Homo sapiens: one gene and its partners. The protein of the gene in region 2 binds, or shares a complex with, the protein of the main gene of each other region. Each region holds a gene or a part of one and is shown on either strand. Other genes may lie near its edges.

Region 1 (7,614 bases), on a different chromosome or scaffold from region 2:
TAAGAGTACAGAACATCTTTTGCAAATGAGTTAACTAGGCTGTCTATCCAGAAGATGTAACAGAAACATTATTGTAACAACAGCCAAAGCTATTTATTCTCGAAAGGAGACCCAGTATAGGGATACTTAACAAATCATTAACTACTAAACTGCAAATAATTACCAGGAAAATGAGAGTTCCACAACTATAAGGATTTCTGGATAATCTAGCAATAGTTTTGAAACCCACACCAAAATACAAGTGTGATAAAAAATGAGAGGTACAGTGGTGACGTTATGTTTAAAAACAGTATTAAAAGTTTAAAAAGTCACTAGGCTACAGTGCATGTGTTTAGAAAATGTGTGGGAGGATCAATAAGAAACCTGACAGATGTCCCTACTGCAGAGGAGTCTTCATTTTATGCCCTTTGGCATTGTCTGAATTTCTTAGGACAAATATGCATAATTTTATTTTTAAAATATAGTAGACCTCTCATTACTGACATGGAAAGATATCCTCAATGGTATATAAATGAAAAATGGGGGTTATACAACAATTTACGTATTGTGTTTTCATTTATGGAAAAAATTACATACTTTTTAGCTGTATTAAAATTCTCAGAAAGATATACAATCAATTAATTTTAAAAATACAGGATTTTCTACTTCACACATTTATACATTGATCTTTTAAAAGAAAATAACTTTTTTTTTTGAGACAGGGTCTCGCTCTGTTGTTCAGGCTGGAGTGCAGTGGCACAGTCATGACTCACTGCAGCCTTGAACCCCCACCTCAGAACCCCAATTAGCTGGGAATACAGGCACGTGTCACCATGCCCAGCTAATTTTCTACTTTTTGTAGAGATGGGGTATCACTATTTGCCCAGGCTGGTCTTGGATTCCTGGGCTCAAGCCAGACTCCCGCTTCTCAGCCTCCCAAAGTGCTGGGATTACAGGTGTGAGCCACCAGGCTTGGCCACTATTACTTTTATAATAAAAAAAGATAGCTCAGTCAGGTGCAGTGGCTCACGCCTGTAATCCCAGCACTTTGGGAGGCCGAGGTGGGCGGATCATTTGAGGTCAGGAGTTGGAGACCAGCCTGGGCAACATGGTGAAACCCAGTCTCTACTAAAAATACAAAAATTAGCTGGGTGTGGTGGCGGGCACCTGTAATCTCAGCTAATCGGGAGGCTGAGGCAGGAGAATCCCTTGAACACAAAAGGCAGAGGTTGCAGTGAGCCAAGGTTACGCCACTGCATTCCAGCCTGGGCAAGAGAGTGAGACCCTGTCACACACACACACACACACAAAAAGATTTCACTTTGGGTAAAAAATAATTACAAAACTTCAAAAGGGAGAATATCATGAACCACTCTAGCTGCAAACCAATGCCAGAACTATGTTAGATCTCCAGAAGACAAATGGAATCAATCTGAATCCAAATGTACACTGAATTTTTGATAAGACTGCTCACTCATAGAAGAAAAACTATATAACAGATTGTAAGAAAAAGGCTCTCTGCATGATAATAAGGGGGTAGGCAAAATACAGCCTTATAGCTGCAAGTTTAAGAATTGAAATTCTGCCGGGCACAGTGGCTCACACCTGTAATCCCAGCACTTTAGGAGGACGAGGCGGGCGGATCACAAGGTCAGGAGTTTGAGACCAGCCAGACCAACATGGTGAAACCCCATATCTACTAAATATACAAAAATTAGCCGGGCGTGGTGGTGTGCGCCTGTAATCCCAGCTACTCGGGAGGCTGAAGCAGGAGAACTGCTTGAACCCGGGAGGCGGAGGTTGCAGTGAGCCAAGATCGCACCACTGCACTCCAGCCTGGCGACAGAGCGAGACTCTGTTTAAAAAAAAAAAAATTGTAATTTTTTGACATTATAAAACTGTGGTATTTAAGTTTAGAAAGGTATTCATTACACAAAGAGGTAAAGATGGGCTCACAATTTGCATCTTACCAGAGGTTATATTAATATTTCCAGCTTCGATCCCTGCTTTAAGTCCGTCTTTCCCCAAAATCCCAGACTCTCCTTTGGCCAGACGCTCCCTCTCCTTCTCTTCCAAACTTCCATAATAGATGTGTGGTTTCTTCACGACCGGAGCAACTAAGTCGTCGGGTGCTTTAGTTTTGGTTGCCTGCTAAATCAAAGATCTGCATTAAACTAAGGTTTAATCTTGGCAATTTACCGGACTTCACCAGAGGATGAAGCTCACCCTGAGTTTCACAGTCCTGTTTCCTCTGTAATTGAAAGGACAAATTGGACACTACTTAAGACGCTCTTCATTGATTTGAGGAGGTGAAGGTAGGGTGAGGGTGTTTCAGTCCCTCACTTTGGTTGATGGGATTAATAAAACTAGTGAGGTTCTCTCGGGTATTTTCCTATGAAAGGTTTGCTCTGAAATCTGTTTACTTCATTCCGTTGGAAGTGTTCAATCTCGTGTTTTATGCTTCCCGGATTACTGCTTATCACTGGGGAAATACTAAGGATAGATGAAATAACCAACGCGGTGCTAAAGGATAACAAGTTACAACATTACAAGTGTATACATTTCAAACGTTCCTAGACGTGAGGTAGTAGGAGTTAGTAGGTCTCATTAAAATTCTGAGATCTGCCAAAGGCATAAACCTTGGCCAAGACACTTCCCTATTTCAGAGCACCGTTACTGGATGAGTCGGAAGAGATGCTTGCCCTTTGGGGCTGTAGTGGGAGAGGTGCAAATAAGCTACAGTCCACGAAAGCGCTTAGGGATCAGGAAAACGGTGGTCCGCTGTGTAGGACACCGCTGAGTCCCGCAGCCTTCCTCCTCAGCCCTCCACCGCCTTCTCCCGCTCCTTAACGGCCCCTTCCCGCAGAGATCCCCTTCCCCCTTAGCGCTCCCTGCCAGAGTGAGCTGGGATCCCGGGCTCTGTACCGTGGAAGAGGCTCGCGAGGAAGCCATGCTGGGCTCTGGAGCCGCGAGGCCCCAGCGAAACCCGAACACTCCCTTTCAGACCGTCCACCGCGCGCCCAGCAGAGGGGAAGTGCGTCACTGACAGGAAGTGCGTCACTGACAAGACGTGGGCCAAGAGGGGTCACCGCCCCCGGAGCGGCGCGGAGCATGATGGAAGTCGTAGTAGGAAATGGCGTCGTGGCATTGAGGGGCATCCCTCCTAGAACCTCCAGGAAAAGCTCGCGGAAGACGAGGTTCTGCGGAGAGAGAGGCTCCAAGCAGTCTGGGAAGTGTAGTCCAGTTGGCTTAGCAGTAGTTTCGTTGGGGGGGAGCCGAGGTTCCGGGAAGGGGCTAGGCCGGCTTGAAAAGAGGTAGGTGAGTCGACTCGCGCGGCTCGGGGCTGAACTCTGGAGCGAGTCAAGGGCTTCCGGGGTCCGCTGTGCCCCCCGGGCGTACGGGGGCGTTTACGTCTTCTTGGAGCCGAGGACCATGTTACCATAGAAACCCTTGCCTGGGCTCCGAGGTACAGGCCTGGAGCTAGGGGACGAGGACTGTTCTCCTCCATGGTCCGGAAGTCTTCCCAGGCTCCCCCTCTGAGCTTGATGGCTCGGCGGTGGATTTGGGCTGCGGCGGGAGATTAAGCTAGAAGAGCCCGCTAGTGCCAAAGTCAAATAAAGACCCGGCGGAGGAGCTTCGGCCTGATTTTGTTGATTTGTCTTCAGCCTGGTCTTTGTATCAGATTGAGAGTAAGATGATGGATAGGAAGGTGTCAGGTAACTCTGTACGTCTCTCTGCCCTGCTGGATGCTGGGGCATTAGAGACGAACAGGATAAGGTTTTTATCCCCACATGGGCGGTGGGAGATCCTCAAAATATTGACGTTTCCCTAGCTGGCCAGATCCTCATGCAACCCCCTAGAACAATTACAGCAATAATAGATGTTATTTATTGAACATTTATTAAATGCCAAATAATATTCCAAGAGCTTACTCTGTATTACGTTATTGACTTCCTACAACAGCAGAGTAGGATACAGATGAGGGAACTAAGGTCTAGTGAGAAATGAAACGAATTGTTCAGGATCGGTGGTGTAGTGGGATTAAAACCTGTGCCCTTTAACCTCTACAGCCAGCACTTTTAACTGTTAATCTATACTGCTCCCTAGTGGCCAGTTTTTTGCAGTTTGCAGAAAAGGTAAAATGTATAGATTTTTTTTTCCCCCTTTTAGGTATCCCTATCCCTCTCTTTCCCTCTTTGGAACTTTGGCTTTCTCTACCATTTGTCTGCATTGGAATCTGGTAGAAGATAATGCCTGATTTAGTACAAAGGAATTTGAAATGTAATGTGCCAGTGTTTTGTGTTGATAATATCACCTGTAGTATCCTAAGCTTCATGGGAGAAGGAACTATTTCTTCCTTTGTATACTTCACAGTCCTTAGTTTCATCCTAGATACGTGTAATAATTTGTATCTGTACATACTTTCAAGGAGTTTTCACTTCCATCATTTTCACTTAATGCTTATCATGTTGACCTTTATAATTTTTATAGGAGGCTAAAATTATTAACCAAACTGAACAGCTTGCTTCGATGACTTCTTTATGTGTGAAATAGGAATCATTTTGTCAACTTCACAGGGTTTTTGTGTTAAAATAAGAATGTAAAGAATGGGAATGGAAAAACAGCACGGTGCTCAAGAATGATCTCACCTTCTAGTCAACAAACATTTACTGACTGTTTTTATAGATACACTCTAGGGGATGCTGTGGAGAATATACAAATGATGCCATCAACAGATATTAAACTCAGTTGGGGGGTTGTGTTTTCTCAAAAACAAAACAAAACAAAATGGTTTTTGTTAACATAGTATTACCTTGGGATTTCAGGCTGTGGAATGCTCTCTTGAGCCTTTTTTTTTTTTTTTTTTTTTTTTTGAGTTGGGGTCTCATGGTGAGGTCATGGCTCACGGTGGCAACCTGAAACTCCTGGGCTCAAGTGATCCTTCCACCTCAGCCTCCTGAGTAGCTAGGACTACAGGTACACACTACCAGCCCAGCTATTTTTTTTACTTTTTTGTAGAGACAGGGTCTTGCTACGTTACCAAAGCTGTACTTGAGCCTCCTTGTGCATTCTTCTCTCTGCCTGACCTTCAGAAGTCAACTAAGACATCATTTTCTCCAGGAAGGCTTGCCTGACATCCTTGTCCACCCCACACTCAGCCCAGACTGGATTAGGTGCCTGTGTGATGCCAGTGCTAGTATCCTCATCAGGGTTCTCATTACATGATATCACAGTTTTCTCTTTGTTTTCCCCACAGATTATGACTGTACCTTTTAACTTTGTAGCTGGAACACAAGAAGTGTTTGTTTAATGAATGACGTACACATTTAAGATCTGTTTGGACGCGGAGGATAATCCTGTGAATTGGTGAGTTGGAGTTTTCCTGAGATTTAGCAAACTGATTTTAGCATTCAAGAGTGATCACAAATCTCTGACAATTCTCATGTAGGGTAGATTAAATTCACTGGTTTGTCCACTTTTTCCTCTAACTATACTAAGATGTGATAGTTTATTCTTTTAGCTAGAGTAGTTCTTTGAATGTGACTGGAACATGAGATTAAAGTGATGGTTGCCTAGAATTTCTCTCTTATAGGCAGTTTGCTATTTTAAATTCTTACAGAAAGAGTTTTTGATTTTATAGAGCTGTAGATCTCCATAATGTAACAAAAATGTAATAATCACATACCTAAAGACTTTAGAAGTTGGCTGGGTACAGTAGCTCTTGCCTATAATGCCAGCACTTTGGGAAAATGAGGAGGGAGGAACACTTGAGCCCAAGAGTTTGAGACCAGCCTGGGCATCAGAGAGAGATCCCATTTCTACAAAAAACACAAAAATTAGCCAGGTATGGCGGTGTACGCCTGTAGTCCCAGCTACTCTGGAGGCTGAGGCAGTAAGATTGCTTGAGTCCAGGAAGTTGAGGCTGTAGTGAGCTAAGGTCATGCCACTGCACTCCAGCCTGGGCAAAGAGCAAGATCCTATCTCTTAAAAAAAAAAAAAAAAAGACTTTAGAAGTCTATGTGTAAATTCAAATAAATTTTTAATATTTCCATTCACTTTAGTATACATGCTTGCAAATTGATTTTATGTTTTGTATCTGAGACTTTATCACCTTCAGATTTTCCTCCTCTCTTTCATTTTTAACAGCTAATAGTTCACTGGGTTTGGCCCTTAGTGTTGACTTCAGTATGCTGAGACGGAAACCAACACGCCTAGAGCTAAAGCTTGATGACATTGAAGAGTTTGAGAACATTCGAAAGGACCTGGAGGTATGAATACAACTTTGTGTTTTTTTGAGATGGAGTCTCGCTCTGTCACACAGGCTGGAGTACAGTGGCATGATCTTGGCCCACTGCAACCTCTGCCTCCTCTGCCTCAGCCTCCCGCGTGCTGGGACCACAGGTTCATGCCAGCACGCCCAGCTCATTTTTTTATTTTTAGTAGAGTTGGGGTTTTGCCATGTTGGGGCCAGGCTAGTCTCAACTCCTGACCTCAAGTGATCCATCCACCTCAGCCTCCCAAAGTGCTGGGATTACACGCGTGAGCCACTGCACCCAGCCATGAATACAACTTTCAAAGCTTAAGGAATATTTAAGATAATAATTCTTGTGTGGGCACAGTGGCTTACATCTGTAATGCCAGCATTTTCTGGCCAGGAGTTTGAGACCAGCCTGGGCAACATAGTGAGACCTTGTCTCTATGTTGGGCAGGGTGGCGCATGCCTGAGCTACTCAGGAGGCGGAGGCGGGAGGATTGCTTGAGCCCAGGAGTTTGAGGTTACAGTGTGCTATGATGGCTCCACTGTACTCCACACTGGGCAACAGTGAGACTCTCTGTCATACATAAATATGTATATACACACACATACATACACAATAACTTTAACTTCTGAACTGCAGACTCTTAAGCCAACAGCTTATTTGAAATCTCTGTTTGGATGCTTTACAGGCATCTCAAACTTCATGTATGTCTCCTGTGGCTGCTGTAACAAAGTACCACAAACTTCATCGCTTAAGACAACAGAAATTTATTATTTCACAGTTTTATAGGCCAAAAATTAGTATTGCTGGGCTGAAATTTAGGTGTCAGGAGGGCCACATTCCCTATGGAGGATCTAGGGAAGAATCCATTCCTTGGCTCTTCTAGCTTCTGGTGGCTGCTGGCATTCCTTGACTCATGACTGTATCACTCCAGTCTCTGCCTCCAGAGTCATATTGTCTTCTTTTCTGTCTGTGAAAACTTCCTCTGCCTCCTTCTTATGATATGTGTGATTGTGTTTAGGGCCCACCTGACTAACCCAGGATAATCCCCCCTTCTCAAGATCCTTAATTTAGTCACACCTGCAAAGGCCCTTTTCCCATATAAGGCATTTATAGGTTCCAGGATTAGGACCTGCTAGCTTTGGGGGCCATTTTTCAGCCTACTACACTTAACATGTTAAAAAAAGAAGAGAGAAAAACTCTTGATTTCTCCCTTGAACCAGTCGTCCCTTCCATTCTTCCCCAGTGTTTCCCATCTCAGTATTGATTCAGTTCCTCAGGCCAGAAACCTAGCAGTCATTCCTGAGTCCTCCCTTTCTCTTACGCTTTATATTCGATCTGTCTGTAGACCCTTTGATTCTACCTTCAGAATATG
Region 2 (7,024 bases):
GGCAAGATCTTGGCTCACTGCAACCTCTGCCTCCTGGGCTCAAGCGATCCTCCCATCTCCGCCTCCCAAGCAGCCGGGACTACAGGCACGTACCATCACACCTGGCTAATTTTTGTATTTTTTGTAGAGACAGGGTTTTGCCATGTTGCCCAGGCTAGTCTTGAACTCCTGGACTCAAGTGATACGCCTGCCTTGGCCTCCCAAAGTGCTGCGATTACAGGCATGAGCCACCACGCCTGGCAATATTTTTACTATATTCTTTCCCCTTTCTTATAGATATATATTTTTTAATTTGTTCATATTATTTCTGTTCAGACATAGCAAAATATGGTCATATTGTGATCGTACTACAATATTTTGTATGCTGCTTTAATTTTGAGCATTCTTTTTTTTTTCTTTTTTTTGAGACGGAGTCTCGATCTGTCGCCTGGTCTGGAGTGCAGTTGCATGATCTTGGCTCACTGCAACCTCCACCTCCCAGGTTCAAGCTATTCTCCAGCCTCAAACTCTCGTGTAGCTGGGATTACAGGTGTGTGCCACCACGTCTGGCTAATTTTTGTATTTTTAGTAGAGACGAGGTTTCACCATATTGGCCAGGCTGATCTCGAACTCCTGACCTCAGGTGATCCACCCACCTCGGCCTCCCAAAGTGCTGGGATTACAGGCGTGAGCCACAGCGCCGGCCAATTAAGAGCATTCTTTTACATACATTACCTACTTTCCAAAAATGGCAAACTTCTATGGCTGCGTGATTCATCAAATGGCTATGCCATTACTTTACCATTTGATATAGTTTGGATATTTGTCCCTGCCCAAATCTCAGGTTGAAACGTAACTCCCAGCGTTGCAGGTGAGGCCTGGTGGGAGGCGACTGGATCATGGGATGAATTTCTCATCAATGGTTGAGCGTCATCCTCTTGGTGCTGTCCTCGGGGTAGTGAGCTGAGGTTGTTCCAAGTGTGTGACACTCCGCCCCAGCTTTCACCGTGCGACGTGCCTGTTCCCCTTTGCCTTCTGCCATGATTGGAAGGTCCTGAGGCCTCCCCAGAAGCAAATGCCAGTACCACACTTCCTGTACAGCCTGCAGAACTGTGAGCCAATTAAACTTCTTTTCTCATAAGTTACCCGGTCTCATGTATTTCTTTATAGCAATGCGAGAAGAGCCTCCTACACCATTCTTCTGTTACTCTCTGATTGTTCATTAATATTATTCATCTGTGAACATTTTCCCCCTTAAATTTGTATACATACTTCATTATTTCCTAAAGACAAATTCCTAAAATTCTGGAACAAAGGATATGACATTTTAAAGGCTCTTTATAAATACTAACTCAATGCCCTTTAGAAGCTTGTAGCCACTTACATGTGTTATGAGTTAAACTGTGTCCCCAAAACAGTTGAAGTCCTAAACCCCCAAAGTGACAGCGCAGCTTATTTGGAAACGGTACTGCAGGCGTAATCAGTTAAGGTAAGATGAGGTCATACTGGAGTAGGTGGGCCCCTAATCTGGTGTGACTGGTGTCCTTAGAGGAAAATGGCCACATAAAGACACAGGGACAGGAGGCTCTGGGGGCATCGAGGACTGCAGAGGCGTCTACAAGCCTAGGAGCTCCAAGAGGCTGCTGGCAGCACCAGAAGCTGGGAGAAGCATGAGGACTCTCCTTGGCAGGTTTCAGAGAGAGCCCAGCCTGGAAAACACCTCGATTCTGGACTTCTGGTATCCAGAATTGTGAGAGAAGTTTCTGTTGTTTTAAGCCCCTCAGCTTGCAGCATCCTCTCACAGCAGTCACGGGAAATCAATGGGATATGCACAACATTTCTTCATATAAAACTAAATCTTTACAACCTGACTGTAACTTACAGGTGAAATAATTATATCTGGGATTTCCATGAAACACACAGCCTAAAAAAATGAGGGGTTAGGTAACACAAGACCAGCAAAATACCAGCAATTGTTGAAGTGGAACAATAGGAACAGACGGGTTCACTATATTCTCTACTTTGGGAAATATTTTTTAAAAATTAAGATGGAAATGTAAACCATGGAGCAGGGTGGGGAGAGGGGGAGGGGGAAAGCCCACACTTCACAAAGACTCCACTGCCCTTCAGCTTTGGTGAAAAAAACCGTATCAGAACTCCAGCACAGGGCCCACTGCAGGAGCGTGCGCCTCGCCATCCATGTGCTTTCAAAACCCCAAGGTGAGCACACGGCCCACTGCAGGAGCATGCAACTCGCCATCCATGTGCTTTCAAAACCCCAAAGTGAGCACACGGCCCACTGCAGGGGCATGCGACTCCCCGTCCATGTGCTTTCAAAACCCCAAAGTGATGTTTGCATTAGACATGGGCCCCTCTGAGTCCGGTCACTCTGACAACGCCCATTTCTGAAACTCTAGTTTCCCGCAGCGTCCACAGTGAGAATGTGTTGGTCAGGTTGCCAGAATCCAGCTTTATTTTCATGGTAAACTAATAAACTGTCTTTTGATTTGACTTAAACACAAAATACTTCCCTACAGAAGCTAAAATAAATACACCAACAAAATAAATGGTCACAGGCATTAGGAAAGTCAAAATAATATTTCATTATTCTCCCTTCAATGCCTTGCTCAGGGACAGATACAATAAATACCAGTAACATCATATTAACTTACGGAATCACCATGCAAATAATAAATTACTTGAAATATCATTTGGACAGGGTTGTAAATTGTGTACTTAAGAAAAAAGAAAGGTCACAACAAATTTTTACCATCCCTTTTCTTGCACGTAAAAAATAGTAAATATTATAAGCATCTGTGGTTTTTAATAATTTGTAGGCATTTAATAAACAGAGTGCAGGGCCAGGTGAGGTGGCTCACGCCTGTAATCCCAGCACTTTGGGAGGCTGAGGCGGGCGGATCACTTGAGGTCAGGAGTTCGAGACCAACCTGGCCAACGTGGTGCAACCCTGTCTCTACTAAAAACACAAAAATTAGCTGGGTGTGGCGGTGCACGCCTGTAATCCCAGCTACTTGGGAGGCTGAGGCAGGAGAATCACCTGAACCCAGGATGTGGAGATTGCAGTGAGCTGAGACCGTGCCACTGCACTCCAGCCTGAAGGACAAAGCGAGACTCCTTCTCAAACTAACAACAACAACAATAATCAGAGGGCAACTGAGTAACTGTAACTTTAAAGATACAAATGTGACTCTCCTTTTGCCTTCAAGCTCCGGCCCACTGCATCTAACCCGGAGAATTCTAACAGAGGCAAACTACCACATAAAGCTCACGTGCCACGAGAACGTGAACATCCTCTGATTTCACCACAGACCAGTTTCATGAACACTTGAGAATCCACCATGTATGAGGCACTTTTCACTCATGGATTCTAATTCTTTCAACACCTCTAAATAGATGTCGCCGATGTTTTAGGTGATGGAATTCAGGCTCAGAAAGGTCACGTGAGTGATGCCCAGCCGCACGGGGAAGGGGCAGAGCTGAGATGCACTCTGTCTGGCTCCAAAGCCTGAACTCTGGATGACAGAATCAGCCTAACCCACAGGAGACGGGGCGGCAGTGTGGTCACGGGGTGGCAGGGAAATATCTGTCCTTAGAGAATTCCATGTGTAAAGAGAAAGACACAAGACCAGCAGCCAGGTCTCAGATCCAGCACCAGGGCAAGGAAGCAGAAGTGCAGGACAGTGGGGACCGATGCGCAGGTGGACTGGCCCACAGAGGACCTTTTCCACTTGGGATTCTGGGCCATGTATTTATTTCTAAGAAAGCAGGAATTGAAGAGTTCAGTTTTGTATATACTGAGTTTGAGAAAACTAAGGGACATCCAGAGAAAAAGGCCCTCCAGGTAGCGACTGGCCTGGAGCTGTACAATGGAGTCTGGGCTGGAGAGAGCTACCTTACTGCCGCCACCTACATCCAGCAGTGATCCCAGCCAGGGTGGCAGGTGCCAGGCTTGGGAGTGAGTGCAGAAGCCCACTGTAGAGTTGGGGGCAGGAAAGGGATGCCAAGGAGGCAGTCTCAGAAACCAAGGCAGGAGACTCCGGGGAGCTGTGCCGAGTGCCCCAGAGAGGTTACCAGAAAGGACGATATGGGAACGGGGACACTGCAGGGGCTGAAGGACTGAGGAACAGAGGACTTCAGTGTGGACAACTTTCAAAAGCCGTGGCTATGGAGAGAGAGGGAAGTTACTGTGGGACTTGGGAGTTCAGATAGGAGAGGCTGAAAGAGGCAGGCAGAGGGGAGCTCCCCAGCCTCCCACCACCCCATTTTCTTGGTGAAATGGCATCTGTGGGGTGACTGGAGGAGCATGAGCTGAGGGCAAACATCAGCAAACATCCAGCAGCATCTGCTGGTGGCGACATTTCCACGGTAACCAAGCGCTTGGAGGAGGAGCTGGGTGAGTGCAGCCACACTGCTCTGCCAAGTCATCCTGTGACTTCCTCAACAAAGGCAGCTTTTTCTTTTCTTTTTTAGATGGGATCTCACTTTGTCACCCAGGCTGGAGCAGAGTGGCGTGATCTCGGCTCACTGCAACCTCTGTTTCCCAGCCTCAAGAGATCCTCCCACCTCAGCCTCCCGAGTAGCTGGGATTACAAGCGCCCACCACCACATCTGGCTAAGTTTTGTATTTTTAGTAGAGATGGGGTTTCAACATGTTGGCCAAGCTGGTCTCGAACTCTTGACCTCAGATGATTCGCCTGCCTCGGCTTCCCAAACTGCTGGAATTACAGGTTTAAGCCACGGCGCTGGCCTCAAATTGTTTTTAAATTCTTTGATTGCCTTGAATTGTAAGTATCTTTTCCAACTCTGTTGCCTATACACCTCATAAGCATGCTTTTTCTTTAGGCAAGTCAGCAATTAAAGTGCTCAGCAGTTCTTCCGCATGCCTCTAAGTCCACCTGCCAAGTTACAATGACATAACTCTGCAAAACACATGACCAAACTGGCACATGATACCAACCACTGTTCTACACTTTTGTATGGAGTCCCTCAACCAGCTAAGAAAACACCTAAAATTCCGGAAAAAGTGTTCTGGGCAGTTGATTAGCACAACAAATTTTTGAAGTGTTTATTTTTACATTTTTAGGTAATTCATGTCAAAGCCATAAAAAAAACTGAAAAACTTGACTTTCTAAAATTAATGTTTGCCTTAATCAGCTCTCACAATAACTTGCAAACTTAGTAATGTGAGAGAAGTAATCACAGTAATAACAGTGGCATTACTGCCCATGTGACAGGAGTGCTCTAGAAACCTTTATTAATCCCACCACAACCCTATGAGTGAGGCACAAGTATGCCCTTTTTACAGGTAAGATGACCCACGGGGCCAAGTTCGTAACGCTCATGCAGTTATGAAGTGCCAAGAGCCTAGCTAGAGTCTGCACCCTCAACCGCCGCTCAACACCACTCCTCATACCTTGTGGCTAGAGTCTGCACCCTCAACCGCCACTCAACACCACCCCTCATACCTTGTGGCTAGAGTCTGCACCCTCAACCACGGCTCAACATCACCCCTCATACCTTGTGGCTAGCTACAAGGCTGTTTTTTTTCCAGAGACAAAAATCCAGAGGAAACACCAAAAATATCCATTCTGTTTGTTTCTACAAGATTCCTCATCTAGCTGAGTGTTGACTCTCACTGGTTCAGTAGGCGTTCTGTGATCCTTAATGTGATACTTAAGATACACCCCTTAATATGGCTCCTATGAAGTTCCATAAATATATATCTGCCTTACACACAATTTATTAGAATGTACTATCATGGGCCAGGCATGGTGGCTCACACTTGTAATCCCAGAATTTTGGGAGGCTGAGGTGACTGGCTCACTTGAGGACAGGAGTTTGAGACCAGCCGGCCAATATGGCAAAACCACATCTCTACCAAAAATACAAAAATTAGCAGGGTGTGGTGGTGGTGCAGGCCTGTAGTCCCAGCTACTCAGGAGGCTGAGGTTGCAGTGAGCCAAGATCGTGCCACTGCACTCTAGCCTGGACAACACAAGAAGACTCTTGTCTCAAACAAACAAAAAAAATGTACTATCATGAGTCAATAATATTACTGAGGAATTTTTTTGTTTTGTTTTTAGAGATGGGGTCTCGCTCTATCACCCAGGGTGGAGTGCAACGGCACGATGATAGCTTACTGCAGCCTTGACCTCCTGAGCTCATACTCTGTCTTAGCCTCCTGAGTAGTGGGGTTACAGGCACATGCTACAATGCCCAGCTCACTGAGACTATTTTAAACTCTATTTGCGTGGGCTTTTTAACACAAAAAATAAACGTCCCATTCAGTCTTCTCACCCATCATGGGATTTAGGTAACAGTGAACCCCAAGCACTGCTGTGAGTGTTCCTACAAAATGGAAAGACAGCTCAAAGGCACATGAAATTGTCCCCTCTGAGAGCGTTCCTACAAAATAGAAAGACAGCTCAAAGGCACATGAAATTGTCTCCTGTGACGGCGTTCCCACAAAATGGAAAGACAGCTCAAAGGTCCATGAAATTGTCTCCTGTGACGGTGTTCCTACAAAATGGAAAGATAGCTCAAAGGTACATGAAATTGTCTCCTGTGATGGTGTTCCTACAAAATGGAAAGACAGCTCAAAGGTCCATGAAATTGTCTCCTGTGACAGTGTTCCTACAAAATGGAAAGACAGCTCGTACATGAAATTGTCTCGCTTCAAAACTGCATAAAATCAGCTGCTAAATAGAAAACTTTTTTTTTTTGAGACAGGGTCTCGCTCTGTCACCCAGGCTGGCATGCAGTGGCGCGATCACGGCTTGTCACAGCCTTGAACTCCTGGACTCATATCCTCCCACCTCGGCCTACCAAGTAGTTGGGACCACAGGCACATGCCACAACGCCTAGCTAATGTTTGCATTTTTTGTACAGACAAGGTTTCACCATGTTGCCCGGGCTGTTCTCGAACTCCTGGGCTCAAGGGAACCACCCACCTCGGCCTCCCAAAATGCTGGGACCACAGGCGTGAGACACAGTGCCCAGATGAAAACTTTATTTATTATTATCA
Region 3 (7,024 bases), on a different chromosome or scaffold from region 2:
AAATGCCACAGTGGAGAGATGAACCAAGTGCTGTGGGAGCACCCACTGTCTGGGCTTAGACCTGGAAGAGGAGGTGGAGGGATCAGCAATGGATTCACACCTGATGTTAGCCACAGCTGTGGGCAGGCTCCTGGGAAGTGCTGGGAGGATTTAGGATTAGTTAACACTACATATAAACAGTATGTATTTCTATTACAAGATACATGTTCAAGGTAGAAAATTCAAGCTTAAATAAGGCAACTGAAAAGTCTCTTTGCTATCTCTACTCTGCAGAAGTATTATCCACAGTCTGCTATATATCACTGCAGAGATTCCTGAAAGTCATTCAAAATAAACAGTAACATGCTTACATAAATTACTACATCTTGACTGTCACTTAACTTACCTTAGAAATCTTGCCAACACATCCAGATCTACCTCTTTATTTTGTTAAGGCTGTATAGTATTCCACTGAAGAGAATGGAACCTCTACGTGTGTAAGACTTGGCTGCAATGCAAGCAGCTTTGCCTTTGTACTGGACTGGAATGGACTGGAGCCAGACATTCTCTCCACTCCTGGCCTTTTCAGCTGGCAGAGCTTCTGAGTTTCAGGACAGGGAACATACAGTGTCACATGCCCAGCAGGCACATAAATATTTGCTGCCAAATCTCCAGTGTTCCCCAGACCCATATTTTCATGTAAAACCTCTTTTCTCTTGCCTGGACTACTACTGCAGTAGACTCCTCACTGGCCTCCAGCCCATCCTCCACAATGCTGCTAGAATCATCTTCTGAACATGAAAATTCATCTACAGTATTCTGCTGAAAATCCTTAAGTGGTTCATATTGGCCTGATTCTTTTTTGGAGGGTCAGTGCCCCTTTTGAGAATCTCAGGAGCACAGTGGACTCCTTCCCCAAAAGGGAAAAATTACTTCATGCCTGAAAGTCAGCCTCTGCCCTCAGAATAACATATGAACTGCTAAACTTGGCACTGGCTTTCACTACTGGCCCTGGCCTCTCTCCAACCTTCTCACCATTTGCTTTTCATATCTTCCTGCTTCAGTCATATTGAATTATTTGCAGCTTCCTCTACACTTCCTGCTGTTTCCTGCCTTTGTGACTTTGCATAGGCTGTTCCCTCTGCCTGGAATGCCCTGCCCAGTTTTAGCCACCTGACAAGTTATATTCTTTCTTGTACTAAACTGAAGCATCATCTCTTCTGTAGTCTACTCAACCACTCTGGGAAGATCCGGGCATTTATGCTTTCCTCACCTTGTTCTAAAACCTCCAATACAGGGCTTTATTGTACTGTAATTGTCAGTTCTCCCAAGAGACTGAGTTCCTTGAAGGATGGAACTGACTTTTCAAATCTGTAGCCTCATATGCAGCATGGGAACTATCTTAATTCATCAGCGCTTAGTTGTGGAATGAATAGAGGACCAGCCCAACTGCCACCAACACATATTTCCTAATCTTCCCCTACGGGAATGTCTCGCATCTATAGGTAATTCTAGAATGAAACACAGTGTTTCCTAAACCTTAGTCATTCAAATAGCATCTTCACAACTGTTACAATATCTATCATCCACAGGTACAATTTATTTTTTAAGCTAATCACTATTTGAACTTCAATATTGCCTCACTATAAGCTGTAATAACTGTAAAATGATGTATTGTGCTAATTCCGTATTTTTTCCTAAGATCCAAATATTAAAATAAAAGACAGTCATCCCACCACTAACTAAAGTAGTGTTTCCCACACTTCTCTATTAAGAAGCATGTGAGATACTTGTTACAAACATAACATCCTGGTCCCACCCCAAAGCCACTCAATCAAATACTCCAGGGAAGGGATCTAGGAATTCGTAGGTTTAACGAGTGCCCCAAAATGATTATTACCTGTTGGAGAATCTAGGCAACAATGAATTAAGGAAAGCTCTCTACCATTTGGTACTGGTACCAGGTTTGAGGATCACAGGGAAGAGGGTAAGCATATCAGACTAGCAGAGCTGCCAGAACTCGGGCTTTCAAAAGAGAGGTGCCACCCTCTCCCATGTCCATGTAAGTAGCAAACAACCCATTCAGACTACAGCAGGAGAATCCTGAGTGTAGAGGTTCATTTATGCTATACATAACCAAATTCATCATAAAAAGTTTTCCAAGGGCTGGGCACGGTGGTTCATGCCTGTAATTCCAGCACTTTGGGAGGCTGAGGTGGGAAGATCGCTTGAAGCCAGGAGTTTGAGACCGGCCTGGACAACATGGTGAAACCCCATCTCTAAAAAGTTAGCTGGGTGTGGTGCTGCACGCCTATAATCCCACCTACTAAGGAGGCTGAGGTGGGAGGAACACTTGAGCCAGGGAGGTCGAGGCTGCAGTGAGCTGTGACTGCGCCACTGCACTCCAGCCTGGGTGACAGAGTAAGACCCTGTCTAAAAAAAAAAACTCTCCCAGAACTCACTGAGATAAAACCAAGGTTTCTATAACTAAAGTTGTACAGACCAGGCATGGTGGCTCACGCCTGTAATCCCAGTACTTTGGGAAGTCAAGGCGGGCAGATCACATGAGATCAGGAGTTTGAGACGAGCCTGGCTAACTTGGTGAAACCCTGTCTCTACTAAAAATACAAAAAAATTAGCCAGACGTGGTGGAGCATGCCTGTGATCCCTGCTATTCGGGAGGCTGAGGCATGAGAATCGCTTGAACCTGGGAGGCGGAGGTTGCAGTGAGCTGAGATCGTGCCACTGCACTCCAGCCTGGGCAACGGAGTGAGATTCTGTCTTAAAAAAAAAAAAAATTGTACACAAAACTTCATTTTCACTAAAACCAAAGTCAGAACCTAGGAAGGCAAAACACAAAGGTTCTGGAAAGAAGTGCTCCATAGGGAGGTAGAATTGATCAAGTGACCCGTCTTCTATCTCCTTCTTAGCTGTTTCACTGCATATGTCCAGTGCCTGGGCACAAGGCCTCAAATGCAGGATTAGGTGATACCTTGATGTGAATGCAATGGATTCCTGCTGGACTAGTGCCACCAAGAGAGTACTTCCTCTTGGTCTTTTTTTTTTTGGAATATGGCAAGTTCTCAATTAAAAGATAGACTCTTATCCCCTATTGACTTGCCTCACAGTCTGCATCAGCATCACCTGAGAGCTGATTAGAAATGCAAAATCTCAGTCCCCATCCAAACCCACTGAGTCAGAACCACTATTTTATAACAAATCTCCTGGAGATCCGTATGAACGTTAAAGTATAAGAAATACTGCCCGGCCAGGCATGGTGGCTTATGCCTGTAATCCCAGCACTTTGGGAGTCCGAGGCGGATGGATCATGAGGTCAGGAGTTTGAGACCAGCCTGGCCAAGATGGTGAAACCCTGTCTCTACTAAAAAATACAAAAATTAGCTGGGTGCGGTGGTGGGCACCTGTAATCCCAGCTACTCGGGAGGCTGAGGCAGGAGAATTGCTTGAACCTGGGAGGCAGAGTCTGCAGTGAGCCGAGATCGCGCCACTGCACTCTAGCCTGGGCGACAGAGCAAGACTCCGTCTCGAAAAAAAAAAAAAAAGAAAGAAAGAAATACTGCCCAATAGGGCTTAAAAATACCACTTCCCTTCCCTCCACACCCCTGCTCCATGGGAAATTCATCTCCTCTTTCATTAATTTTTCTTAAATCACATTATTCAGAAACCCAAAATGGGGTGCCCATCTGTAGAACCCCTTTACATTAGACTGCCACCCAGATTTCCTAACACCTTAAAACCTATGAGGGATTTTTGGTAAAGTGAAATGCGATAATTCAAGTAAAGTTCTTAGCTCATTATCCGGGCACAGGAAGAATTCATTGAAGGATAACTGCTTTAATTATAGTGCCCTTAAGTATTAGCTACGAGATTCAGTTCTAAGCAAGCCAGGGCGAGTAGATTGAGAAGCTTACATTTAAAAGAGTTCACTGTCCAGTACAGTAGCCACTAGCTACAACTGGCTCTTTACATTTATTATTTTTTTATTTACTTATTTATTTTTGAGACAGGGTCTCGCTCTGTCGCCCAGGCTAGAGTGCAATGGCACAATCTTGGCTCACTGAAACCTCTGCCTCTCGGGTTCAAGAGATTCTCGTGCCTTTGTCTCTGGAGTAGCTGGGATTACAGGCGTGTGTCATCACGCCCGGCTAATTTTTGTAATTTTAGTAGAGATGGGTTTTACCATGTCGGCAAGGCTGGTCTCAAACTCCTGGCCTCAAGCGATCCACCTGCTTCGGCCTCCCAAAGTGCTGGGATTACAGGTGTGAGCCACCACATCCAGCCTAATTTAAATTTAATAAACTACAGCTTAGTTCTGTCAATAAAAAAAAAATAGGCTGGGAATGTTTGCTCACGCCTATAATCCCAGCACTTTGGGAGGCCAAGATGAGCAGATTACCTGAGCTTAGGAGTTCAAGACCAGCATGGCTAACACGATGAAACCCCGTCTCTACTAAAAATACAAAAAATAGCCAGGCATGGCAGCGTGCGCCTGTAATCCCAGCTACTCAGGAGGCTGAGGCAGGAGAATTGCTTGAACCCGGGAGGTAGAGGTTGCAGTGAGCCAAGACGGCGCCACTGTGCTCCAGCCTGGGCGACAGAGCGAGACTCCATCTCAAAAAAATAAAAAATAAATAAAAAATAAAAAGTTAACAGTTTAGTCCCTCAGTTGCACCAGCCACATTTTAAGTGTTCCGTTGTCACATGGGGCTGGTAGCAACCATACTGGACCTCCCAGATCTAGAATCTTTCCATCATCACAGCCTATGGACAGTCCTGGTCTAGCGGGCCTGTGGAATGTACAATGGCCACCTGAGGAATGCGTTCTGCTTGGGTTGCAGGCTGAGAAGAAGGGCTTTCTTGGAAGCAAAAGTTCATATAACTTTTGCTAACAGTGGGGGAGAGCGGGGAGGGTTGATGATCCCCACCCTCAGAAATAAAACCTCAACAAGGACTTCCAGTAACTTTATGTAAAAGACTCAAAAAGATACAGAAAAGAGGCCCCAACATTAAGAATTTCTAAACTTTATTCTTTTTGTTATCGTTTGTCCTCTGGTAGTGATCAGTGGTCAGTCTTTGAAAAGAAAGGACCTATGAACTCAACTTTAGTTACAGCAAAGAAATGAGTAGGAGACGGAGGGAATGGCCAGCAGCCATTGAAGAGGGAGAGCAGGCTGGGCCCAAGGGGGACCCAGTATTGGCAGAAAGGAAAGCTCAGGGTGTCAAGTGGGCCTGAGAAGGGATCATCTGGCTGAACAAGAGAGGTCCACATGTAGCTCTCAGCACACACTTGTGCATTCCAGCCTCAGCATTTGCTCACACGAGTTCCCCGCCTAAAATGCCTGACATTCTCCCTCTCTACTTAACTCATGTAATAAATTTTTACTGAATGCCTGTAAGTGCCAGCTTTCTGAACAGAGTTGGTCACAGATAAAGGTGTGTTGTAGAGTCATTAAAATGGTCAGGTATTTGACTGGATCTCCATTTGGAAAAAAAGACAAGAAAAAGTCCTATCTTAACACTATACAGAAAAATTAATTATAGATGATTTTATAAATGTACAAATAAGACTTTAAAAATACTAGAAAAATGATCTTAGCTCCACCATATAAAAAGAAATACTAGAAAAAACACAGAAAACATTGTGATCTGAGGTAGTAAAGACCTTAAATGAGACAAAACTGAAAAGCAGTGAAAGACTGATAATTTGGACTTCATCAAAATTTAGAACTTCTCTTTAACAAAGAATATCACCAAACTTAAGCAACACAATACTAATTTTTTTCTTAAAATATATTCTGAAGAAAACAATTACAACATATAAAATTAAGAACTAATGCTCAGTTGGGGGCAGTGGCTCACGCCTGTAATCCTAGCACTTTAGGAGGCCAAGGTGGGCAGACCACTTGAGGTGGGGACCAGCCTGGCCAACATGATGAAACCCCATCTCTACCAAGAAATATAAAAATTAGCTGGGCGTGGTGGCATGCACCTGTAGTCCTAGCTACTTATAGCTATTGTATAAGGTAATCTTATACAATATTTTTAATACGTTTGTGCATGAAACAGATTTTTGACTATGATCCATCACATGAAGTCAGGTGTGGAATTTTCCACTTCTAATGTCATGTTAGTGCTCAAAAAGCTTCATATTTTGGAGCATTTGGGATTTCGGATTAGGGATGCTCAGCCTGCACTGCAGTTTCGGTTTTTCTTTTCCTTTTTTTTTTTTTTTTGATGTCATCCAGGCTGGAGTACAGTGGTGTGATTATAGCTCACTGCAGCCTCAAACTCCTGGGCTCAAGTAATCCTCCCACCTCAGCCTCCTGAGTAGCTGGGACTACAGGCATGCACCACCACACCTGGCTAATTTTTTTTTTTTTTGGAAAGACGGGATCTCACCAGGTTGCCCAGGCTGGTCTCGAACTCCTGAGCTCAAGCTATCTGCCCTCCTTGGCCTCCCAAAGTGCTGGGATTACAGGAGTGAGCCACCTCCTGCCGGGCTGTTTTCATTTTTTAATACAAGGTGGTTTTACATGAACTAAGAAGGAAAAGTTTTCAAGACATATTTTTTAGAACATGAAAAATATAGTATGATTTCATTTGGGAAAAAGAAAACCTCCCAAAATTAGATGGGCAAGGCAAAGGCCCTGATGGACATACATCAAACTAATAAGGAAGTGACCTTTGGAAAGGGGAGTGGAATTGCAGGTGGGTATTGTCAAGAGGGGCTTTCACTTTATCTGTTTGGTGTGAAAGTTTTCACAATGAGAGTGTATTATGTTACTTGTGTAAACCAAATGAAATGAAATATGGGAACCTTGATTGGATCACCTTTTTTTAAGCTACAAAAGTTACTTTTGGGACAATTGGGGAGGTTTGAAAATGTACTATATATTAGATAATATTGTGGTTACGTAGGATGTTCTTATTTTTAGGAGTTCCTTGCTGAAATACTTAGGGGTAAAGTGTCAAGAAGTCTGCAACTTTCAAATGGGAAAGAGAAGAAGAAAGGGTAAAGGAAGGA
Region 4 (7,151 bases), on a different chromosome or scaffold from region 2:
CAGAGCTCCGCGCCGCCCCTTGCTCAGCTTCCGGCCCCGCATCCTGACTTCCGGTCTGGGAGGCCCCGGCCTGGCCAAGCGATGCAGCGCACGGAGTTTTCGGGTCTGGTCGGGTCGGGTGGAGTAGGGTATGCTTGACTTCCACCCCCCGGACGGAGGGCTTTTGTTTTTGTTTTTTTTTGTTTGTTTTTTCGTAACATATCAATAGGAAACAAGGACTTCGGCTTACAGCTGATACCAGAACCTTCAGAAAAATGCAAATCATCTATAACACAACTCGATGCTTACGGCGGTGCCTTCCCATCTTTTTTCTGGTAATAGGATGCTGTGCAATCCATCGCCATCTGCGTGACTTTGGCTGACTGTGTAACGCTGCCACTTCTCAGTTTCCTCATTAGTAAATGGGAACACCTAGAGCACCTACCTCAAATGGATTGTGAGGCCTTGAAGTGCTCAGGCAGGGCAACAGCGGCGCCCAGGCCGCAGGCGCCGCGAAGGCTCTCCTGGCCCGGCTTGCCTCCTGCTCACGGCGCCGATGGCTTAACTGTCCCCGCGGGAGGACCCAGGGTTTTTGAGGGACCTACGGGTGTATTATTTTCTTTTTTATTTATTTTTCCTTTTTTTTTTCTTTTTGAGAAGGAGTCTCACTCTGTCGCTCAGGCTGGAGTGCATTGGCGTGATTTCGGCTCACTGCAACCTCCGCCTCCCGGGTTCAAGCGATTCTCCTGCCTCAGCCTCCCGAGTAGCTGGGACTACATGCGCGTGCCACCACGCCCGGCTAAGTTTTGTATTTTTGGTAGAGATAAGGTTTCACCACGTTGGCCAGGCTGGTCTCGAACTCCTGACCTCAGGTGATCCGCCTGCCTCGGCCTCCCAAAGTGTTGGGATTGCAGGCATGAGCCACCGTGCCCGGCCCCTTTTTTTTTTTTTTCTATTTTTTCTGACCACTGGGTTCACGTCACAGCGTGTAAAATTCTCAAGTCCTTTTACAAAAGTCAAAATCAGGAATTCATGATTAGGACAGGGACAAACGGCTGGATGCAGTGGCTCATGTCTGTAATTCCAAAACTTTGGGATGCCGAAGTGGGAGTATCGCTGGAGGGAGGAATTTGAGACCAGCCTGGGCAACACAGCGAGACATCGTCTCTACAAGAAAAAAATACATTAAAAAAGAAAGAAAGAGCCGGGCGTGGTGGCTCACGCCTGTAATCCCAGCACTTTGGGAGGCCCAGGCGGGCAGATCAAGAGGTCAGGAGTTCGAGACTAGCCTGGCCAAAATGGTGAAACCCCGTCTCTACTAAAAAAAAATACAAAAAATTAGCTGGGCTTGATGGCCGGTGCTTGTAATCCCAGCTACTTGGGAGGCTGAGGCAGGAGAATCGCTTGAACCCGGGAGGCGGAGGTTGCAGTCAGCCGAGATCGAGCCACTGCAGTCCAACCTCCAAATCAAAAAACAAAAAACAAAAACAAAAAACAGGGACCAATGGTGGTCCAGCCACACGATGGAATATTACTGAGCAATCCAAAGGAAGATCTGTAGCTCAACAACATGGATGGATCATAAAATAAATATGCCCAGTGAAAGAGGCCAGGGACTCTGTATGATTCCATTTATATGAGACTCTAGGAAGTGCAAACTAATCTATAGTGACCGAGAGATCAGTTGATTTTTGTGGGGGTTCTCTGGGAGGAAGAGGATATCTTTGGGGCTGGGTAGATTCTTTAAATTTTTTTTTATTTTTTTATTTTTTTGAGGCAGGATCTCACTGTCGCATAGGTTGGATTGTAGTGGTGCAATCACTGCTCACTGCAGCCTCCACCTCTCAGGCCCAAACGATCCTCCTGCCTCAGCCTCCTGAATAGCATGCCACCATGCCCAGCTAATTTTAAAATTTTTTTGTGGAGATGGGGGGGGTCTCTCTATGTTGCCAAGGCTAGTCTTGAACTCCTGACCTCAAGTGATCCTCCTGCCTCAGGCCTCCCAAAGTGCTGGGATTATAAGTGTGAGCCACCGTACTGGGCCCAGATCCCGTCTCTTGATTGTGGTGATGGCTTCATGGGTGTATATGTTACAGGAAAGGGATCCCTATTCAGACCCCAGCAGAGGGTTCTTGGATCTTGTGCAAGAAAGAATTCAGGGTGAGTCCACAGTGCAAAGTAAAAGCAAGTTTATTAAGAAAGTAAAGTAGCCAGGTGTCGCGGCTTATGCCTGTAATCCCTGCACTTTGGAAGGGGAGGCGGGCGGATCACTTGAGGTCAGCACTTCCATACCAGCCTGGCCAACATGGTGAAACTCTGTGCCTACTAAAAATACAAAAATTAGCCGGGCATGGTGGCAGGTGCATGTAATCCCAGCTACTCAGGAGTCTGAGGCAGGATAATCACTTGAACCCAGGAGGCAGAAGTTGCAGTGAGCCGAGATCTCACCAATGCACTCCAACCTGGGTGACAGAGCAAGACTCTGTATCAAAAAAATAAAATGTAAAGTAGTGAAAGTACAGCTACTCCATTGACAGAATAGGGCGTTCCTGAAAGTAAAAGGAGGAACGCATCCACCATGGCTACAATGCTTGTTTATATATAGGATAAAAAGATCATGGGGAGATGTGCTCTGCTACAAGGGTTTGTGATAAAGGATTAATTTTATTATTATATTTTGCAAGAAGAAATATTATCTTTAAAGCAAAATTAGGAATGCCTTTATTCTCCAGATATTGGGATATTAGGACACTCCCAAGTCTGGATCTGTTTAGTAAACATTATCTCTCTGTTCCCTTAACTGTAGACATCTCTAGGCTAGGAATACCTAACTTCCTGGGAATGCAGCCTGTCAAGGCCCAGCCTCATTTTCCTAACCCTCACTCAAGATGGAGTTGGTCTGGTTGAAACGCCTCTGACATATACCGCAAGTCAGAATTCAGTAAATTGCACACAGTGTGGTGTGGTGTGGTGTGGTGTGGTGTGGTGTGGTGTGGTGTGGTGTGGTGTGGGTATGACAGAGTTTCACTCTGGTTGCCCAGGCTGGAGTGCAATGGGGCGATCTCGGCTCATTGCAACCTCCGCCTCCCGGGTTCAAGCGATTCTCCTGCCTCAGCCTCCTAAGTAGCTGGGTTAACAGGCTCGTGCCACCACGCCCGGCTAATTTTTGTATTTTTAGTAGAGATGGGGTTTCACCATATTGGCCAGGCTGGTCTCCAGTCCTGACCTCAGGTGATCCGCCCGCCTTGGCCTCCCAAAGTGCTGGTATTATAGGCATGAGCCACAGCGCCTGGCCTAAATTGCACACTTTAAACATGTAGTTTGTTGTATGTCAATTATACCTCAATGGAACGGTTCAAACAAGCAAACAAGTTCAAGGCAGGTCCTGAGGTTAGAGCTTTATTAGCTTCATGGTAAATCTGCCTTTACCGGGCATTTGCGTTTTCATGGTACCAAGAACCTTCTAAAAGTAGAATTAGGGCTGTCAAGGGGATGATTTGGGAATGTCGCCTAGTTTTCCTGTGCAGGATTGTCAGCCCCCAAGCCGCGGAGACTGTGGGAAACGACCTCACGGTGGTGGTTTCGAGGCACAAATCTGGGGCCGAATGACAGCTTCTTTGTTTTTGAGACGGAGTTTCGCTCGTTGCCCAGGCTGGAGTGCAATGGCGCGATCTCGGCTCACCGCAACCTCCGCCTCCTGGGTTCAAGCGATTCTCCTGCCTTAGCCTCCCGAGTAGCTGGGATTACAGGCATGCGCCACAATGCCGGGCTAATTTTGTATTTTTAGTAGAGACGGGGTTTCTCCATGTTGGTCAGGTTGGTCTCGAACTCCCGACCTCAGGTGATCCACCCGCCTCGGCCTCCCAAAGTGCTGGGATTACAGGCGTAAGCCACCGCGCCCGGCCTGACAGCTTTTATCCAGAAAACTGTCGCCAGTAAAGGTTCCCGTCTCAGTAAACTGTAAACGACAGTAGGCCCACAGAAGGTTCTAAGGGGAGAGGAAGCCAGTGCAGGAACAGCACCGCCCACAAATTTTCTGCAGCGTGATTTGTCCCCAGTGGCGACTCGTAGAGAGTTCGGGGCTCGCTACCAGCCCCTCTCCTGATTGGCCTTGTGCCGCGCGCTCGAGCGTGCTTGGCGCCTGCGCTGGACGACTCGGCCGGTAGTGGAGATGTCCGGCCGGTCTAAGCGGGAGTCTCGCGGTTCCACTCGCGGGAAGCGAGAGTCTGAGTCGCGGGGCAGCTCCGGTCGCGTCAAGCGGGAGCGAGATCGGGAGCGGGAGCCTGAGGCGGCGAGCTCCCGGGGCAGCCCTGTGCGCGTGAAGCGGGAGTTCGAGCCGGCGAGCGCGCGCGAGGCCCCGGCTTCTGTTGTCCCGTTTGTGCGGGTGAAGCGGGAGCGCGAGGTCGATGAGGACTCGGAGCCTGAGCGGGAGGTGCGAGGTGCGCGGGGCCGGGCCGGGCTAGGCGCGAGAGCCTGTTTTTTTCGCGTCCTTTTTTCTTGTCTCTAATCTTCCGCTAGGTCACTGCGCCGGAGTTGGGGGAGGGGTGGGGTTGGGGTGGAGAAGAGGAGGGATCCAGACTCGACGATTCTGCTGTTCGACTTGTTCTGATGAAGACAGTACCCTTCTCAATAATCGTATAGTATTTCTTTTTTCTTTTTTTTTTTTTTTTTGAGATGGAGTCTCATTCTGTCACCCAGGATGGAGTGCAGTGGCGCGATCTCGGCTCACTGCAACCTCTGCCTCCCCGGTTCAAACGATTCTCCTACCTCCGCCTCCCAGGTAGCTGGGATTACAGGCGCCCACCACCGCTCCCGCCACCACGCCCGGCTAATTTTTTGTGTTTTTAGTAGAGAAGGGGGTTTCATCGTGTTAGCCAGGATGGTCTCGATCTCCTGACTTCGTGATCCGCCCGCCTCGGCCTCCCAAAGTGCTGGGATTACAGGCGTGAACCACCGTGCCCGGCCAAACGTATGGTATTTCTAACTGCAAAAATCGTAACAACAGCAGCTTCCCTTTATCGAATGCCCGATGTGGGGGCTCAGTGCTGATTTTACAAGTGTTACTTCCTTCCATTTTAAAAAAGAATTTTTTTTTTTTTTTTTGCGTTTTAAGAGAAGCAAGTCTCGCTATGTTGCCTAGGCTGGTCTCGAACTCCTGGACTCAAGTGTTCCACTCACCTCGGCCTCCCAAAGTGCTGGGTTTACAGGCGTGAGCCACCGTGCACGGCTTTCCTTCAGTTTTTACATCTAAGGTCTTGTAATTTCTGTAATCAAGATATTCAGAATGCTTGAGCAATAGGCACCTCTACTAAAGTATGGATTATGTAGCACTTTTTAAGCTGAATAAAGTCTGGAGACAATTTTCCATTAGTCTCTTGAGTTTGTGCACGTACTGCGACCATTGCCTGACTGCCTTTTCTCCTGGACTCTCGTTAAGGATGTTCGTGTAGTGAGCAGCCTTGGAAGATAGAAATGGTGTCTCCCTACAAAACGAGGAGACAAGGGCACAATCCCTTATAAAAGATTTGGGGCAGGGTGTGGTGGCTCACACCTGTAATCGCAGCTACTCTATAGGATGAGGTAGAGTTCAAGACTAGGATAGGCAACAGAGCGAGACCTCGTTTGAAAAAATGGTTAATGGTTCAGATTCTCTAAGCACGGGGTTCGTCTCCTGTAAGGCAGCTCACTGTGTGCATGGGTTCTCCTCACTTTGCCTTGTGGGAATTCACTTGGAAAACTGACACCAATGCTATATTCCGGCTACTGTCATTGCTCTAATAAACTGTCCTTTATTTCAGGCCAGGTAGTCACATGCTTTCCATCAGCATTCATAAAACTGTGACAGGCTAACTTGTTAGCTTGCGAGTAGGGTAAGATCTGAGACCCACTCAAGTTTTTGACAAGTGGTAGATTTATAGATACACATGTACATTCTTTTTTTTTTTTTTGAGACAGTTTCACTCTTGTTGTCCAGGCTGGAGTGCAATGGCACGATCTCAGCTCACTGCAACCTCTGCCTCCCAGGTTCAAGCAATTCTCCTGTCTCAGCCTCCCAAGTAGGCTGGGATTACACGTGCATGCCACCATGCCCGGCTAATTTTTGTATTTTTTAGTAGAGATGGGGTTTTATTATATTGGTCAGGCTGGCCTTGAACTCCTGACCTCAGGTGAGCCGCCTGCCTCTGCCTCCCAGAGTGCTGGGATTACAGGCATGAGCCACTCACCCAGCCACTCTTTAAACTACGTAGTACATTTGTGGCCGGGCGCAGTGGCTCACGCCTGTAATCCCAGCACTTTGGGAGGCCAAGGAGGGTGGATCGCAAGGTCAGGAGTTCGAGACCAGCCTGGCCAACATGGTGAAACCCCGTCTCTTCTAAAAGTATGAAAATTAGCTGGGTGTGGTGGCTTGTGCCTGTAGTCCCAGCTACTCGGGAGGCTGAGGCAGGAGAATTGCTTGAATCCGGGAGGCGGAGGTTGCTGTGAGCTGAGATCGCGCCATTGCACTCCAGCCTGGGGGACAGAGCGAGACTCCGTCTCAAAAAAAAAAAAACAAAAAAAAAACGAAACACACAACTATATGGTACATTTGTATTACAATTAGTTTATTTTAGTGCTTGTGACATATTTCATATTTTTCATGCTTTATGGGATTTCTTTATGTAAAATGCAAACAAATCTTCTGTTGATTTTATGTATACCAAATATATTCTCCCAGTTTGTGGCTTGTTCTATTAGTGGGCTTTTTTCTTTTCTTTTTTTTTTGAGAGGGAGTTTTGCTCTTGTCGCCCAGGCTGGAGTGCAGCGGTACGATCTCTGCTCACTGCAACCGCCTTCTCCCAGGTTCAAGCAATTATCCTGCCTCAACTTCCTGAATAGCTGGGATTACAGGCACCCACCACCATGCCTGGCTAATTTTTGTGTTTTTTGTAGAGACGGGGTTTCACCATAGTTGGCCAGGCTGGTCTTGAACTCCTGACCTCAGGTGATCCACCCATCTCGGTTTCCCAAAGTGCTGGGATTATAGGCATGAGCTACCGCGCCCGGCTAGTGGACTTTTTTTTCGATATTGTTGCCACCCAAACAATAGGAACTCATCTTGATTAGTTTTTCCCATTTCTGTTTCTTTTTTTGTTCTGTTAGTTGGCCCTGAGTATAGGTTTCCCATTTTCAAA

What was found.
Region 1: TXNL4A (region 2) and PRPF4 share a complex: the UniProt entries of both Homo sapiens proteins name them as parts of the precatalytic spliceosome.
Region 3: TXNL4A (region 2) and PPIH share a complex: the UniProt entries of both Homo sapiens proteins name them as parts of the U4/U6-U5 tri-snRNP complex.
Region 4: TXNL4A (region 2) and USP39 share a complex: the UniProt entries of both Homo sapiens proteins name them as parts of the U4/U6-U5 tri-snRNP complex.

What each region holds. Positions count from the first base shown.
Region 1 is NC_000009.12:113,271,061-113,278,674, reverse strand, and holds the start of PRPF4 (U4/U6 small nuclear ribonucleoprotein Prp4), read right to left. Parts: upstream 3,018-7,614; 5' UTR 2,932-3,017; coding exon 2,905-2,931; intron 2,131-2,904; coding exon of another isoform or gene 2,128-2,130; coding exon 1,950-2,127; intron 1-1,949. Other genes in the region: anaphase-promoting complex subunit CDC26, read left to right, coding at 6,168-6,248. UniProt on the Homo sapiens protein: Plays a role in pre-mRNA splicing as component of the U4/U6-U5 tri-snRNP complex that is involved in spliceosome assembly, and as component of the precatalytic spliceosome (spliceosome B complex).
Region 2 is NC_000018.10:79,978,552-79,985,575, forward strand, and holds part of TXNL4A (thioredoxin-like protein 4A), read right to left. Parts: intron 1-7,024. UniProt on the Homo sapiens protein: Plays a role in pre-mRNA splicing as component of the U5 snRNP and U4/U6-U5 tri-snRNP complexes that are involved in spliceosome assembly, and as component of the precatalytic spliceosome (spliceosome B complex).
Region 3 is NC_000001.11:42,668,404-42,675,427, reverse strand, and holds part of PPIH (peptidyl-prolyl cis-trans isomerase H), read right to left. Parts: intron 141-7,024; exon of another isoform or gene 1-140. UniProt on the Homo sapiens protein: PPIase that catalyzes the cis-trans isomerization of proline imidic peptide bonds in oligopeptides and may therefore assist protein folding. Participates in pre-mRNA splicing.
Region 4 is NC_000002.12:85,612,046-85,619,196, forward strand, and holds the start of USP39 (ubiquitin carboxyl-terminal hydrolase 39), read left to right. Parts: upstream 1-4,140; 5' UTR 4,141-4,150; coding exon 4,151-4,418; intron 4,419-7,151.